Homo sapiens: one gene and its partner. The gene in region 2 interacts genetically with the main gene of each other region. Each region holds a gene or a part of one and is shown on either strand. Other genes may lie near its edges.

Region 1 (8,418 bases), on a different chromosome or scaffold from region 2:
AAGGAGTCAAATTTCACAGAGAACAAAGTAAAAAGTGGCACAAGCAAAAGAAGAGGCATGAGCCAAATTACAAAGGGATGAAAATGCATAGTGTATTCAGAAACTGAGAGAACTCAGTGTGCAAGGTAAATTCGACAAGGGAGTGTAGAGTGAGTAGGAGAACCAGGTTAGGGAGAAGCAGCACATTCCAGCTCTGCCATTTACTGGGTGACATGAGAACACCGGTTAACCAGTTAAGCAGCAGACAGGTGTCTTGTTATTTAAAGCAGCCTAGCATCTGAAACTGTTTGTGAAATCCGGCCCCCATCCCTTATAAGTCTTGATGAGACGCAGAGCCTATGCCCCATTACAGAAGCTGAAAAGGTTGATGCTCTTTCCCAGACACCCTTGCAGCCTAGAGCATGGGCATATAAAATAGGCGCTACCGATTAGGAACACCTGCTCAGACATTAAATCAGAAGCTAGTGTCACAAGGAAGGGGGCATGGGTTTTAAAAGATTCTACAAGTAGCAACAGCTGCAGAAGGATTACAAAACCGGCAACAATGTCAGCAATGTCCTAAGGTATGAGCTATAGCATCAAGTACTTGCTCGTGGTTGGCAATGACCTCCTCACTGGCCCATTTTTGTGGCACAATTTCACTCACTGTTCCTGGCTAAACAGCTCCCAGACTGGCTTACTAGTCCTCCTGGAGTTTCTGTGAACACAATATTCTTCTAACAAATTCTAACCAATCTGGTAGAGTTGGTTCCTGCAGCTTACAGATAGGGGCTCTGACTGATGCAGAGCCTCAGGGTCCACATCTGTGAAATGGGGATAATCATGTCTGCTTCAAAATCTGTTAAGGATTACATGAAGATGCCTATCTTACTTTGCACTTAGCAATATAGGAGCGGCTCATGTAACGCTTCCGCGTGTGAAGTCAAACACACATCCACATACCCCACACACACCATACCTAAGAGTACCAAGGTCTAGCTTTAGAAGGCAAAAACAAAGCAAAGCCGTTTTCTGCATATGATTAGATGTTTACCATCTGTACTTCATGAAGACAAACCATGTCCAGCCTACCCACCATCATAATGCCAGAGCCTGGCAGAAGGCTTATACCTAGTAGGTATATAATAAATATTTGCTGAATGAACCAATGAATGAACCACTGTACCTGCTTTTTTGATCATTAAACTTTCCCTGGCCGGGCGCAGTGGCTCATGCCTGTAATCTCATCACTTTGGGAGGAAGAGACAGGTGGATCACCTGACATCAGGAGTTCAAGACCAGCCTGGCCAACATGGTGAAACCCTGTCTCTACTGAAAATACAAAAAATTAGCCGGTGTGGTGGTGGGCACCTGTAATCCCAGCAACTCGGGAGGCTGAGGCAGAACTGCTTGAACCCAGGAGGCAGAGGTTGCAGCCAGCTGAGATCACGTCACTGCACTCCAGTCTGGGCAACAAGAGGGAAGCTTTGTCTCAAAAATAAATAAATAAATAAAAATTCCCTGATCTTTTTTCATATATAGTAACAGCTAGTTACAGACCTTTCAACTTTTCACTGCCATTATCAAGGTGCCCTGCCTGCTAATACTGAAGAAAAAAAAAAGCCTACATTTTGTTTTTTGGAGTATGTCTCCAATGCTTCACGTAGGTAACTTAGCAAAAAAAGAATAAGCATGAAAAAAATCCAGCTACAAAGGTTTAAATATTTGTTTCAAAATTACCATCTGGAGTATCTCTATCCTCCCCAAAAGCAGACAGACACTAGCTTACAGCAGTCTTTCAGGTAACAATCCTTCAGTCTGCTCTAAAGGAAAAATTCCAGTCACAAGTCCCCAGCAACTACTTAATGAACACCATGACCTAAGAGGAGTCTCAAGATTGCACAGTATCCTCCAAAGTGATTTCCTGATGTTCATAGATGACGTAGTTTTTAGGATGAAGAAAGGGCTTAGTGGCAAATCACTGATAGAGGCCTGCAAAGACTGTTCGTTCACATACTTACACCCAACATCCTATCTGTAATCCAGGCAGGTCGACTCTCCAAAATAGTCTTAAAAAACGAACGGCTAGAACAAATTGAAATCTGTGACTCACAACTAGGTGAATGCAAAGGAAGCTGATTAGGAAGCGAGTTCTCATTAATGGTGATGTATCTGAATGACAGGAGAGGTGACGCTTGAGCTAACAAAGTGAAGCATCTGATTTTAAGTTAGAAGTTAACTGAAGTCACGCTTTAGTTGAACACTTAAAAAATCAGACAAATCTATTTGCATTTTTGTATTCTATTTTTGGAAATAAAAGACACCCCTGACAAACGGAGTGATATACAGGGGATCCGAAATGCCCTAAATTGATGCCATTTTTTTGAAACTTCACCAGGAATGACTAGATTGTGAACAGGATTTCTACGCAGCACTTGAAGAACTTTCCAAAGAATCTGAAAGAAAAATTGTTAATGCATAAAGTAGAAACCCATTACCTAAAAATACAAAACGCGTTATTCCCCGATGACAGCACTTAGAGCTTTCTTTCCTGCTTAGTTACAATGTATAAAATTTTCCTGGAAGTTCCTACAAAAAGGGACACAGATCTGTTCTGTTCAAGCCTTCAAGTGGATACTTAGGGAGATCGCAGTGAAATACTTTCGGCCCCACGGGGCCAGTCTCAATAAAGTTATACCCAGCACGTGGGTGCAACTCACCAAAAGAAATAGAAACGCAATCGACTGTGGAGACTCTCAGTGGCAGAGGTGAGACAGCCTCCCAAACAAAAATCCCTCCAGGCTCTGGTCCTCCAAGAGCAAACCGCGCCTAAAGGAAGCCCGGTCCGACGCCAGAAGGGCCCCCGCCGGGGACGACCAAGGTCTGCGCCCAAACAAACCCGGGTGTGCGCCTCCCTCAGAACCCCCACCACCGGCAATCATGCCACTGTCCCAACCCGGAGCCCCGCGCGCGGAATTGTCCCTCACCACTCGCCCCTATCTCACAGTCGTCGCCGTGCACAGGTGCCATGGTCCCGAATCTCCCGATTCCGCGCCAACCAGCCCAAAACTGGCGCGGGGGCCGAGACAGGCGCCAGCCTGAAAGCCAATCAGCGGCTCGGGAGGCTGCGGACTTCCGGCCGGAAGGCCACTGACGTGCCGCGCCGCGCCGCGCTCCGCCCCCGGCCTTCCCGCGGACGCGCGTTTGGCGCCCTGTGATGACCCCTTAGGGAAAAGCTAGAGCTGAGGGGAAGCCGGAGGAGAGCAGGAGAAAGAAGCGGTCGGGCGCTGGAAAGGAGCCGCCTGGAGACTGCGCAAGCGCACGCATGCTGATGGGAAAAGATTTGGGCGCGTGGGAGAAAGGGCGCTCTGGTTCTCAGAGCCCATTTTCCCGGAAAGGAGGCGCGGGCGGGCAGGAGAGTGGGCGTGGTTGGATCGTTTTCCCCAGAGCCGGGAAAGCGACTGCCTCCTGCTGCGCGCCCTGAATTTTGCCTGATAGTTTGCTTCTCAGCAGTCTGGATACAGTGGCTGTGTGATTAACAACTTAAAGATATATGCTCCGTCTTAACCAAATAACCAGAAGTAGCATTACCAATAAATGGCCATCTGATCTCATATGCCTCCTGATGTAATGCGTATGAAAAAGGAAAAACTTCGCCTATATGGTCTTCTTGCAAAAAATGTCTAACCTGAATCTAACCATGAAGAAACAATCAGATGTATTCAAAATGTAGGACAATCTACAAAACACCTGACGTGAACTCCAAAATTTCAATGTTATGAAAAACAAAAAGGGTATTCAATTTTTGTGTATGATACAATGGCTGTAATGTGTACATCTCATGTTATCTCTTTCCAAAAAGGTATAACATTTTTATTAAATAATGCCTGCCACACATTTGTATTTTTTCCTACATTATTGCCCACATGCTTATTGATCCCTTCTTCATGTGACAACAATTTTGTAATATTTTCTCCAAAGAGGATATAAAGATAATTCAATCTGTCTTCTAGCATGGTTGATCAATACTTGTTTCTTAATTTCTGATTGTTTAGAAAATGTCTTTCAGCTTCATAATCATTTAATATCATGTTATGTGATCCATATGTTGTGATACATAACATGTAGTAATTTACACTTAGACATAACTTCCTATTTAAAGTACTACGACAGATTTATTCCTACACTTCCCTTTTAAAAACTGATGGAAGTTTTATAGTTTTATTATCAAGCTTTTTCCAACCAGGAGAGAACCATGTTGGCTAGTCATTAATAAGAACCAAATCCTTACCTTAACAATTTCACAGCTGATTACTTCCCACATGCCCGGGTATAACTCTAGGCATTTCAAACCTCTTTTCTCTTTCACTACTGCTGTGGTCTGAATGTTTCTCTCCACATAAAATGTATGCGTTGAAACCTAATCACCAGTGTGGTGGTGTTAGGAGGTAGGGCCTCTGGGAGGTGATTAGGTCATCAGCAGGAACCCTCCCTCATGAATAGGATTAGTGCCCTCGGAAAAGAGGCTCCAGAGAGCTGCCTTGCCCCTTCTTCCATGTGAGAACAGAGCAATAAGGCACCATCTATGGACCAAAAAGTGGGCCTACCCCAAACACTGAATCTGCCGGCACCTTGATCTTGGAATTCCCAGCCTACAGCACTGTGAAAAATAAATTCCTGTTGTTTATTAGCCACCCAGTTTGTGGTATTTTGTTATAGCAGCCTGAACAGACTGAGACAATGACCCACATACTTTGTGGGAAAAGACCTGTAGGACACTTTCTCTTTTTGAGATGGAGTCTCGCTCTGTCATCCAGGCTGGAATGCAGTGGCACCATCTCGGCTCACTGCAACCTCCACCTCCCAGGTTCAAGCGACTCTACTGCCTCAGCCTCCCGAGTAGCTGGGATTACAGGCGCCCGCCACCACACCTGGCTAATTTTTGTATTTTTAGTAGAGATGGGGTTTCACCATGTTGTCCAGGCTGGTCTTGAACTCCTGACCTCAGGTGATCCACTCATCTCAGCCTCCCAAAGTGCTGGGATTACAGGTGTGAGCCACCATGCCAGGCCAGACACTTTCATACCATGATATGTCTTCTGGCCCTACACTTTCAGTTCAAAACTCCTGGTAAGTCATCACACTGGGGTAGAAATATTCCTGGAAGCTATTCCTACACCAAGAAGTCTATGAATAACAGCCCGGCGCTGTGGCTCACGCCAGTAATCCCAGCACTTTGGCAGGCCGAAGCTGACAGATCATGAGGTCAGGAGTTCAAGACCAACCTGACCAATATGATGAAACCCCATCTCTACCAAAAATACAAAAATTAGCCGGGTGTGGTGACAGGCGCCTGTAGTCCCAGCTACTTGGGAGGCTGAGGCAGAAGAATAGCTTGAACCCGGGAGGCAGAGGTTGCAGTGAGCCGAGATTGTGCCAGTGCACTCCAGCCTGGGTGACAGAGTGAGACTCTGTCTCAAAAAAAAAAAAAAGTCTATCAATAACTTAAGTATATATGGCTTAAGTATATATGTGGGTTAAGTGCCTTCGACCCACATAAATAGAAGAAATAAGCCCAAACTAAATGCAATATCAACTCCATTTCCCCATAGTGGAATCCCAAAATGCCTATGCCTATTTCACTGCTACTATGCAAGAAGCGAAGTGTATCAGAGGGACAGTTGGAGGTTCTCAAGAGCTGATTGTTAAATATTCCAGTATTTTGTAATCTCCATGTTAAACTGTTGGTAGCTTGAAATCAGTCATGGTGGGAATATTTACACCCTGGAAATTGGCAAGTGGTACAAATCAGAGCTTTTTATTTTTTTAAGGTTTACCAGCAAACCACCAAGTGGAAAGTAGTCATATCTGATTGCAGCTAAAATATCTTACTTTTGTAGATCTACCATTTGATCCAGCAATCCCACTCCTGGGTATCTACCCAGAGGAAAAGAAGTCATTATACATGATAGATACTTGCACGCGCATGTTTACAGCAGCACAATTTATAATTGCAAATATATGGAACCAGCCCAAATGCCCATTAATCAACAAGTAGGTTAAAAAAAGTGAGATATGTGTATATATACATATGTGTGTGTGTATATATCTCACACACACACACACACACACACACACACACACACACACCATGGAATACTACTCAGCAGTAAAAAGGAATGAAATAAAGACATTCGCAGCAACCTGGATGGAATTGGAGACCATTATTCTAAGTGAAGTAACTCAGGAATGGAAAGCCAAACATTGTGTGTTACTCGTAAGTGGGAACTAAGCTACAAGTATCCGAAGGCATACGAATGATACAATGGACTCATTGTATCATAAGAATGATACAATGGGGACTCTGGGAAAGGTGAGAAGGAGGTGAGGGATAAAAGACTACACATTGGGTACAGTGTACACTGCTCAGGTGATAGGTGCAACAAAATCTCAGAAATCACCACTAAAGAACTCATTCACATAAACAATTAATTAAGTAATAATATTAATAAAAAGGATTGGGGTAGATTAGATGGGAATGAAGGAGGGAGCCAGGGTTGTTTTAGAATAAATGGAGCAAATAAATATGACAAATACTATCTTAAAATAAACAAATAAATAAAATGAAATATCTTACTTTTGCAAATGTTTACAAAAACATAAAACCATTGCTAGAACATCTCCCAGAGCCTTGCAAGTGGCCAATATGCAAATGAGAGGCCCTGGAGATTAAGTTTCAGCAGCTTTACTGTAAACCTACCTCTGTTATCTAATCATGCAAAAAAATCATAATTTGTCTTAAACTTCCTCTCTCCTGTCCAGGACCAGTTTTGCAAGTTTAAAGGTTTTTTTTTAACTTATAAACAAAGTAAAGCAAACTGAGACTGAGATACTATGTTCCACCATTTTCCCCCTTTTTATCTGTACATTTCTCTATATATAAATGTTATCCATTGCTGGTAAGCTTACAGTGTTGAGGCACAACTCATTTATTACAGGTGGCAGTGTAAGTTGGCACAATCTTTTGGAAAATAATATTGCAATATGTGACAAGTACCGTAAACATACTTGTATCTTTCAACCCTTTATTTCCACAGGTAAAAGTTTAATAAGAAATAATAGAAACAAAAAATGCAAAGACGTTAATGGCTGCTGTTTTCCATTAGCAAAAAGTTGGGACCTAAAAGTCCACATCATAACAAAGGTTTAATGTTGTGACATCAAAAAGATAAAATGATTAGAAAGACTCAAAATATGAAAAATGTTTATGATATTTCAGAAAGTGAAAACCACAGAGGGCAAAGTGATACATACCCACACTTATTTGCAATGATATATCAAACAGTTATTTACCTGAAAGCAATATGCAAAATGGAGTATATTTTGCCAGGATGATAGAATTATAGACTCTTTTTGTTTATAATTTGTCCTCTTTAATATTATATTGGAAGGATTAAAGACTCAGGTAGAGTCAGACTTAGGGTTTGATTCTTAGACTTCTACTTTTATGTGAATCACCACACTGTCTTCCACAATGGTGGAACTAATTTACAGCCATAAAAAAGAAACCAGGTGCAGTGGCTCACGCCTGTATTCCAAACACTTTGGGAGGCCACTCTGGGTGGGCAGATCACCTGAGGTCAGGAGTTCGAGATCAGCCTGGCCAACATGGCAAAACCCCATCTCTACTAAAAATACAAAAATTAGCCAGGCATGGTGGCGGGCACCTATAATCCTAGCTACTCAGGAGGCTGAACCAGGAGAGTCACTTCAACCCAGGAGGCAGAGGTTGCAGTGAGCCGAGATCGCACCACTGCACTCCAGCCTGGGCGACAGAGCACGACTCTGTCTCAAAAAAAAAAAAAAAAAAAAGAATGAGATCACGTCTGCAGCAACATGGATGGAGTTGGAAGCCATTATCCTAAGCGAACTAACATAGGAACAGAAAACCAAATACCACATGTTCTCACTTATAAGTGGGAGGTAAACATTGAGTACAAATGGACACAAAGAAGGGAACAACAGTTACTGGCACCAACTGAGGGTGGGGTGTGGTAGAGGGTGAGGATCAAAAACTACCTATGAAGTACTATGCTTATTACCTGGATGATGAAATAATCTGTACACCAAGCCCCCGTGACATGCTACTTACCCATATAACAAATCTGCACATGTACCTGAACCTAAAAGTTAAAAAAAAAAAAAAAAAGTATTCTGGTAGATCTGAAAGGGGACTCTTTTTTGCCTTTCTGCTTTTTCTCTTTTCTCTTTCTTCCTGCAACACAGATGTGATGGTTTAAGCTCCAGCAGCCGTCTTGTATCACGAGATAACTGTGGAAATGAAAGTCCCCACAGTGAGATGGTGGAACAGAATAAGAGCCTGGGTCCCTAACATCCATTAAGTCACCATACCATCCCTGAGCTGTCTACCCCCAGACT
Region 2 (7,561 bases):
ACATTTTTCGGTTTGCCAGATTTCAGGCATAATTCTCATTCTAAAGCACTATCATTAGTATAAAGGAAGGACAAAACATTCAGTGACTCCCCTCCCCCACCCCCATCCCCAACCCCAACACTACCTACACTAAATCTAGTACATCAAGTTAGCTTTTTTTTTTTCCTGAAAAAAGGCAAAAAAGACTTTACATTGCATCATACAGCAGATATCCTAAATCAGTCAAACTATCAGAGGAAACTGTTGGCGTACAGCCTTACAAACAATTTACCCTAATAAAAGTTCCCCAGTCAGAAAATGTGTTTCACACAAAACATTTTTCCCTTCTTGCATTTCACTACCTTACACATTATGTGAAAAATCATTAAAAACACCTACTACATATTTAAAAAAGCCAAAATTTCAGCAACTTTTATTGACTACCTTTTAAAAGCCCTATGCTGCTGTTTTACAAGGCATAATAGACCAGCTCATTTGGTCAAAGCATTCTACATCATTAGTTTGAACTAACTTTTACTGAAACAGCTACAGCATCAAAAGAGTTAAGGCAAATTGGAATTCATAGAAAAGGATAAGACACTTCACACTACGTTGAAAGAAAGACAGAAAGCTAAGAAAAGAGACACTGACGGCAACACTGAATTACAGCAACACTCGCACTGCAAGCACAGAACACCATGGGTGAAGTCGGACTATTTAAACTTCAGAAAGCCCATTTCATACAGCTGGAAAAAAAAAACACAAATTAAACACAAAATGAACAAAACCACAAAAATCCGGTCATGCACTTGGATAAGTCTTCATGGTCTTTGTGCATACCCAGAAAATTGAAGTTTTCTTTTCTTTTTTTTTTTCTTTTTCTTTTTTTGCATCATAACATTTGATAAAAATCTTTTGTTTTTGTTTTTTGTTTTTTTTTTTTTACTAAAATAAACCTGTTCGGGGGAACAGCTACTAGATGAATTTAAGGGTTTTATGCACCTTATAGAACTTATAGCAAAAATAGTTTTAGTTGATTTCATTATAAATAACGTTTTCAAGAACCTGTGCAAAACTGTCAATAATTTCCTAAAGCACAATTGATCAGAAAAATCCATGATTGTTCAGCCTTCACACCCTTCTTCATGTAAGAACACCTTTCTGTACATCTGGAAGAGAAAAATAAAAGACAAATGCTTTTGTAGATTTGGTGTGAAACACTACAGAGCTTTGTAATCTGTTTCTTGTTTTAAAGAGATATGTGTTTGAAAAAGGTTATGCTCATCACTGATGGTAGACTGATAAATGCAGACTCTGGAACTGATGGTTACTTTCAATGCCTGTCACATCCAGGACTTGCAAAATACTTTCTTTTCTAATTTAGAGCCAAATTCATTTGGGTCTCTAAAGAGTGACTTTATGAAATCAAAAATACATGTTATCACCAGGGCAATCCAGAAACCAAGGTATTCTATATCACCAGGGCAATGCAGAAACCAGGGTATTCTAAGTTCTACACAGCTATTTTATTACAGTCTGCATGGTAAAGTGAAAAGTTTTGAAATTTGTGGTTCAAGTGAGAGTTGGGAATATAATCTTTCAATCTAAGGATATTGACATTTATCTAAATTCATAATCAAGATGTTGCTAAACTTGTAATGCTAGATTGAGCAACATCTTATGCTATAGGTCCTCCAGTTTCTGAGTATTAAAGTAATATGATATAGGATACTTGTATTATAGAACAATTTTGGTTCTTGGTGTTCTCTGATGTTACAGATTTTTATTTTTTTCTTTTTAGTGGGGAGAGTATACATTTGGCTTCAGTATAAAGCATTCTCTTTAGACAAAATGATTAATCTTAAATTCATAAAATCACTGATTTTAATATTTCAACAAGACTAGATGCCTTGGCCACGATTAAAGCAGTATGATAAAATCCGAGTTATCCCAATCACCATTCTGATTTTAAAAAAAGCCCTATAGATTGTGCTTGATTTGAGCCCCCCAGTTATGAAGACCTTTCCCTCATACCTCACAGTTACTTATTAGGTTGAAAGGTATATGGAGAATGGTCATTAGACGTCTCGACAGCCACCTGCTGTTGACCACTTGCCTCCTACAACAAACAAAGCAGAATGGATGAGACATGTTAGTGAAAAAACCTCAGCTCTGCTACTTAGGCCTGACTGAATCCAACAGTGCCTTAAAAACAGTTACTCTTTAAAGTAAATTTCTTCACGTCATGTAGAGCTTTCAAGGTTAATCATTTCCCTAAGCAGCTGGCATGTCTAACAGACCCAAAGCACCTCCCATCCAAATGTTTATGACTTTCCTATTCTTATCAAGCTACAGCATATCAAACAAATCTCTTACCCTCTTATCCCCTGGGGACAGATGTGATTTGGAATTCAGTATTTTCAGATTTTATAATCTGAAATGTGGTATGCATATGCTGTATATCATTTAATGCCTCCAGTAGGGTCTAGGGCTGCACCTCATAAGCAAACATATTAATAGTTCTACACTGGAAGCCATGAAGCAGCACAGTTAAGTGGGATCAAGATTTTGTCTCATCTCAATTCAGGTTGAGTTTTGCCATAGGTCAGGTTTTATGCTAAAGTAGTTACAAAGATAATTTTTATTTTCAGATTTCTTTTTGGGTTTCAGATTGCAGGTAAGGAATTGTAGGCTCTGGTAACTGTGGTTGTCAGTAATTGCACAAACAGAAGTAAAATACTACTACCACCACCACCACCACCACCACCACCACCAACACCTACTACTACTACTACTGCTACTACTATCACCACCACCACCACCACCTCCACCAACAGGCCAGAGTCCTATGATCCTTTCCTGGAATTGGAACCTTTGGGATCTGCCTAGTGGGCAAGATCAACTGGATTGATACATTTCCTTGAAATTTTAAGGATACTTTGCAGGAAAATGCCACGTTTTCTCTCTAACCATAATTCAAATGCTAGACTTCTTTCTTTCATATCAGTATCTTCCATAACAAGAACAGTTATCTAGCCATACTAACAGCCTCTGTAAAAACAGCTATAGCTTCTTCTTCATCCCTGTAGCAGTTTCAAAACAGCTTTCTCTTTTCCACTAAGTATCTTAACTACAACTGATTTCTTTTCGTCATTATTAATTATCATTGATACGATCTTTAGTACTGGGACTGCAAACTCCAGATTTATCTTATTATGTCTGTAGTATCATTTTATGAGAGACAAGACAGAACGTCCGAGGGGTATGAAAGGCACTATAGGCTTAGAAAATATTTCTGGGAGTCTTAAGAGGTGTGGCCTGGATGTTGTTACCCTAATTTGTCATGATCATAGCTCACTGTAGTTGCAAACTCCAGGGCTCAAGGGTTCTTCCTGCCTCATACTCCTGAGTAGCTGGGACTACAGGTCCATGTCACCATGTCTGGCCAATTTTCAAACAATTTTATTTTTTGTAGAGATGGGATCTCACTATGTTGCCCAGGCTGGTCTCTAACTCCTGACCATAAGCAATCCTCCCTCCTCAGCCTTCCAAAGTGTTGGACTTACAGGCATGACCCACCACATCTGGCTAAACGCAATTCTTTATGCAAATATTTGACGTCTGGTAGATTTTTCTGAGTTCTATTTAATTTACCCATTTCTGAAACTACTTATAGCCAGAATGGTCACTGGATGGTCTCTACCAACCTCAACAGGAACCGCTGTCGTCTGCATATGTGCATACTGTGGCAAGTAGGCTCCTTGCATAGCTGACGTTGCAGGCATGTACTAGAAAGAAGAATGAGGTCAGAATGGGCAATGGTAAACCATGCAAAATTTGGAGTACGTGGGGGGATTGTGAGATGGATATAATGTATTTGGAAATCTCAAAGAAGAAATTTAAATGGGCTACACCTCAAAGCTTAAATAGTGCATATAAATATGTCATATGGAAGGTAAACTGTTTTCTACTTTTTGAATCTGCTAAACTAAAAATTCCACATTTCTTTGGATTTGCTAACAAAGTGAAGATAAAAAAAGTTTATTATGGGTGAAGATAAAAAAGTTTGTCACTCTCAATAATTCAGTATCACTAATGTGTGATTTTAGAAGATCTCTCCTCAAAGGACCTCATTATTTTCTAGCAGCCCCCTAAACTAGTACCTAGTATTGTTTCTACAGGTAGAGCCCACAGGGGTAAGACTTATTAGACCTCTAACAGGTCACTGCAGATTAGGCAGCAGAGCCTGGCTTTTCTGACACTGACAGTCATCCTTTCCCAAAGGCAGGAGAAATTTCTAGTCAGTCTCATTGGATATGTGTGGCCCTGGCTTAGCCTTCACAAGAAACAGCTGTAGGTTTTGAGTGTATAAGGGGAAAACGCACCACCCTTTGTTCTTTTAAGCCACTATAGAATAGAGGCTAAATTAAAATCCTTTAGCCATCTTACCAGCAAAATGCTAAGCATCAAATCTGGAAGCTGATCTGGTGCCAGCTCAACCTCATTACCCAAAGGAGTCCCCTGGACTTTGGTGAAATATTTCAATATTAAGACCATGATTCAATACTCCCAAACTCCATAAAAGAAGAAATAAGCGAGAAATAATTCCCTGCTTTTACCATCTTGTATTACCTTCGTCTTTCGCTTCATGACACTGCCACAGGGACAGTGGTACTAGTTATATAGATGACACTAGTCATAAAAGGCTAGATGTGGTCACGTGTGGGTGCTATATTCTCGTAAAGGAGAGATACCCAGAGAATAGACTTTCAGTTCATCAATTAATTAAGAAATAGCTGAGTATTTACTTTATGGAAGGTCATGTGGGGGGAAGAGAGGGGATTAGACATAATCTGTTATCATAGAGGCTGTCATTTGATAGGGAAGATACAGGCTGCATTAATTTACCCTCCTCTGTTTACAGAGACACATGATAATTATTTGCCACCTACTGTTCCGGTGCTGCCTAGTGACAGATGACTCATCTGCTGGGCCAGAGGGCTGATCATTGATGCGGGCTGTAGTGACATGGTGTGCTCCATTGAGGGAGTTAACACGGCACCCTGGGGAGTTGGAGACAGGAGCAAAATTAGACAAACTGAGGCAAGAGTTAAGATCCTGTAATTACTTTTTACAAAGGAAATACCTTAGTTTGTTTAAGAATGTGAAGCAAAAACAACCTTCCTCAATCTTGCAAATGGCATCATAAACAGTTTCCTAAAAATCTTCTAAATTGCTCTTCCTGAGAGTTTTTTAAGAGCGTTAGGGGAAATGATATCTTGGCATTCACTTCACAACAATCCCTGTATTAAAGCCAGTGTCCCTCTTCTCCTTCCCTTTCCCTTCACTTCCAGTAACTGGAAGCAAGCTAGTCCAGCAGGAGGAGCTATCATAGGAAAAACAAACTGATTATCACTGCCTGCCTAGGGTTACAAAACGCTTTCTTAAAAAAAAATCTGGAAAAAAAAGGCAGTTGATGTTTTCTCCAGTCACCAAACAATGTATTATATTTAATAAGATCAATATAGTATTTTGTTTAACAATGTTCTATCCAGATAATCGTCTGGTTCAAGATCAGGTTGTTAGGATCAAGAGCACATTTCTTCATTCACTCAGTGTTTCTCAGAACTTTAAGTTACATTTTGGTGCCTGGGAGGGAAGGCAATTCAGATATGATTAATAATCTGAGTCCAGATTCTTTTATTTAATTTGAAAAAATGTTAGTCATTAAAATCAAATTAAATATATTTAGGAAAATAGGAGGGAAAAAAAAAACAATTGCTTCTAACTCAGCCAGTCTAATACAACCACTGTTAGCAATGTCAGGGTACTACTGCCAGATCATAGCCTCTGTGTGTTTCTGTACAGGTTCAATCAGAGCACATCAACAACTTCATATCCTGGGATTTTGCTCTTAACTTTGCATTCTATTCTAACCATTTACCTAGCTTGTTGAAAAACTATCATTATCATCATTTTTTTAAATGGTTACATTGATTGTATAAACCAAAATTCAATGAACTCTTTATTTTTGGACTTTTGCAATCACCTCATTATCTGAGAATGCAAGTATTCTGACACGCTCTGTAACTACTAATGTATGTTTTGTTATCACTGTACCTGGCATCCCTTAAATACAACTGTTATTTATTGATAATTAGATAGACAATCTAGGACAGAGTTAGGTGTACAGGAACTTTAATTCTGATGTAAATCAGGCAGTTTAAAGCTGGGTGGGGAAAGGTAATGAATCCTCAGATAGCAACCTTCTGCTTACATTCCTAATGTCTCCTCAAAGATGTTAAGCTCAGATACGTGCAGTCTTTTTCTCAAATGTTGCCAAAAAGAAAAAAAGATATAGATGTGTGTCAGAGATAATGTTTGTCATTAATACATTCTGTTAGAAATTTTTTTTTTAACATGCATCATCAAAAAGCAAGTGGTAACACGGAAATGACTCAGAAGCCTAGAAGATGGTGGAGCAGTTTCCTGCTCCTTTTTCTCATTCATTGGCACCATCTGTAATAGGAAGTCCTCAAATTCAAAGCAAGCTGATTTCCAAGCATTCCAAAATAGGGTAGCATGGAGTATCAGGGACACAGATTGCTATGGGCATGTGTGGATCAGTGCATGTATATTATGTACACATGTACAGGTAAGTGTGGGTTTGAAGATGTGTCTATGTATGTGCACATGTATAGATCTATATGTATGTGTATATATCACACAAAACGTATACATATATCAGAGCGCGCCTCTCCTATTTCATCACCTAAACATGTTTTATCTGCTTCTTAAAGGTCATCTCAGCAATTTCTCATTCAGAACCTGTTATCCCTGGATTGCTATTTCATATACATGGTCTTACATCGCAGTATCCACTTTAAAAGGTATCCGAAGACAAATTGCTGTCTGAACATAAGGCCAAGAATACAGTTCTTTTTCTAAGCAACCAAATCTGTTTTTATTTTACACATATTGTGAACTGTATTGCTTACCAGGATTCCCATTTTGCATCAGTTACTAGAAAGCTTAGAGCCAAATTTGTGATTTTCTCATGTGAGCATGCAGGGTCATTGTGTTGGACATCCTTAGCCTTATTGTAACTTTGTTCTCCATATGTATTTTTAAATTTTCAAACCCTTCTTCCACAAACTAGATCTTATGTGTCTTTGAAAAACACATGAAATACACTATATAATAAGTATAACTCATTCAATTTAAAAAAATGTAATATATATGAATGCTCACGTCATTAAGAAATCACATTTGTTATTTACCAAATAATGTGCTACCACTTTAGTATTTATAATCTCCATAGAAAGGCCAAGTAACACTGATGAAAATCTTCATCTCGGTTTTGAACTTTATATCTGCATTAAACAGAATGTAAAAAATGAGAGCGGTTTTATCCCAAGTACTATTAAAAATGTAGCCTCTCATTTGAATGATCTCTAAAGAGCTGGTATGAATAAGAAAATGGTGCCCTGCCTCAAATATGATATATTTTAAGTTCTTATAGAAAATGTAACTTAATATCTTCTACCAAGTTGTTTTATAAGGATGAGAAGAAGTTTTATAA

The links. Genes that interact genetically often act in the same process or in processes that back each other up.
Region 1: of RBMS1 (region 2) and POLA1, changing one enhances a phenotype caused by changing the other (phenotypic enhancement), as found in Homo sapiens cells (one study listed by BioGRID).

The regions. Positions count from the first base shown.
Region 1 is NC_000023.11:24,688,553-24,696,970, reverse strand, and holds the start of POLA1 (DNA polymerase alpha catalytic subunit), read right to left. Parts: upstream 3,054-8,418; 5' UTR 3,010-3,053; coding exon 2,967-3,009; intron 1-2,966. UniProt on the Homo sapiens protein: Catalytic subunit of the DNA polymerase alpha complex (also known as the alpha DNA polymerase-primase complex) which plays an essential role in the initiation of DNA synthesis.
Region 2 is NC_000002.12:160,273,617-160,281,177, forward strand, and holds part of RBMS1 (RNA-binding motif, single-stranded-interacting protein 1), read right to left. Parts: intron 5,043-7,561; coding exon 4,932-5,042; intron 3,768-4,931; coding exon 3,687-3,767; intron 2,099-3,686; coding exon 2,021-2,098; 3' UTR 2,014-2,020; exon of another isoform or gene 1,774-2,013; intron 1,149-1,773; 3' UTR 1-1,148.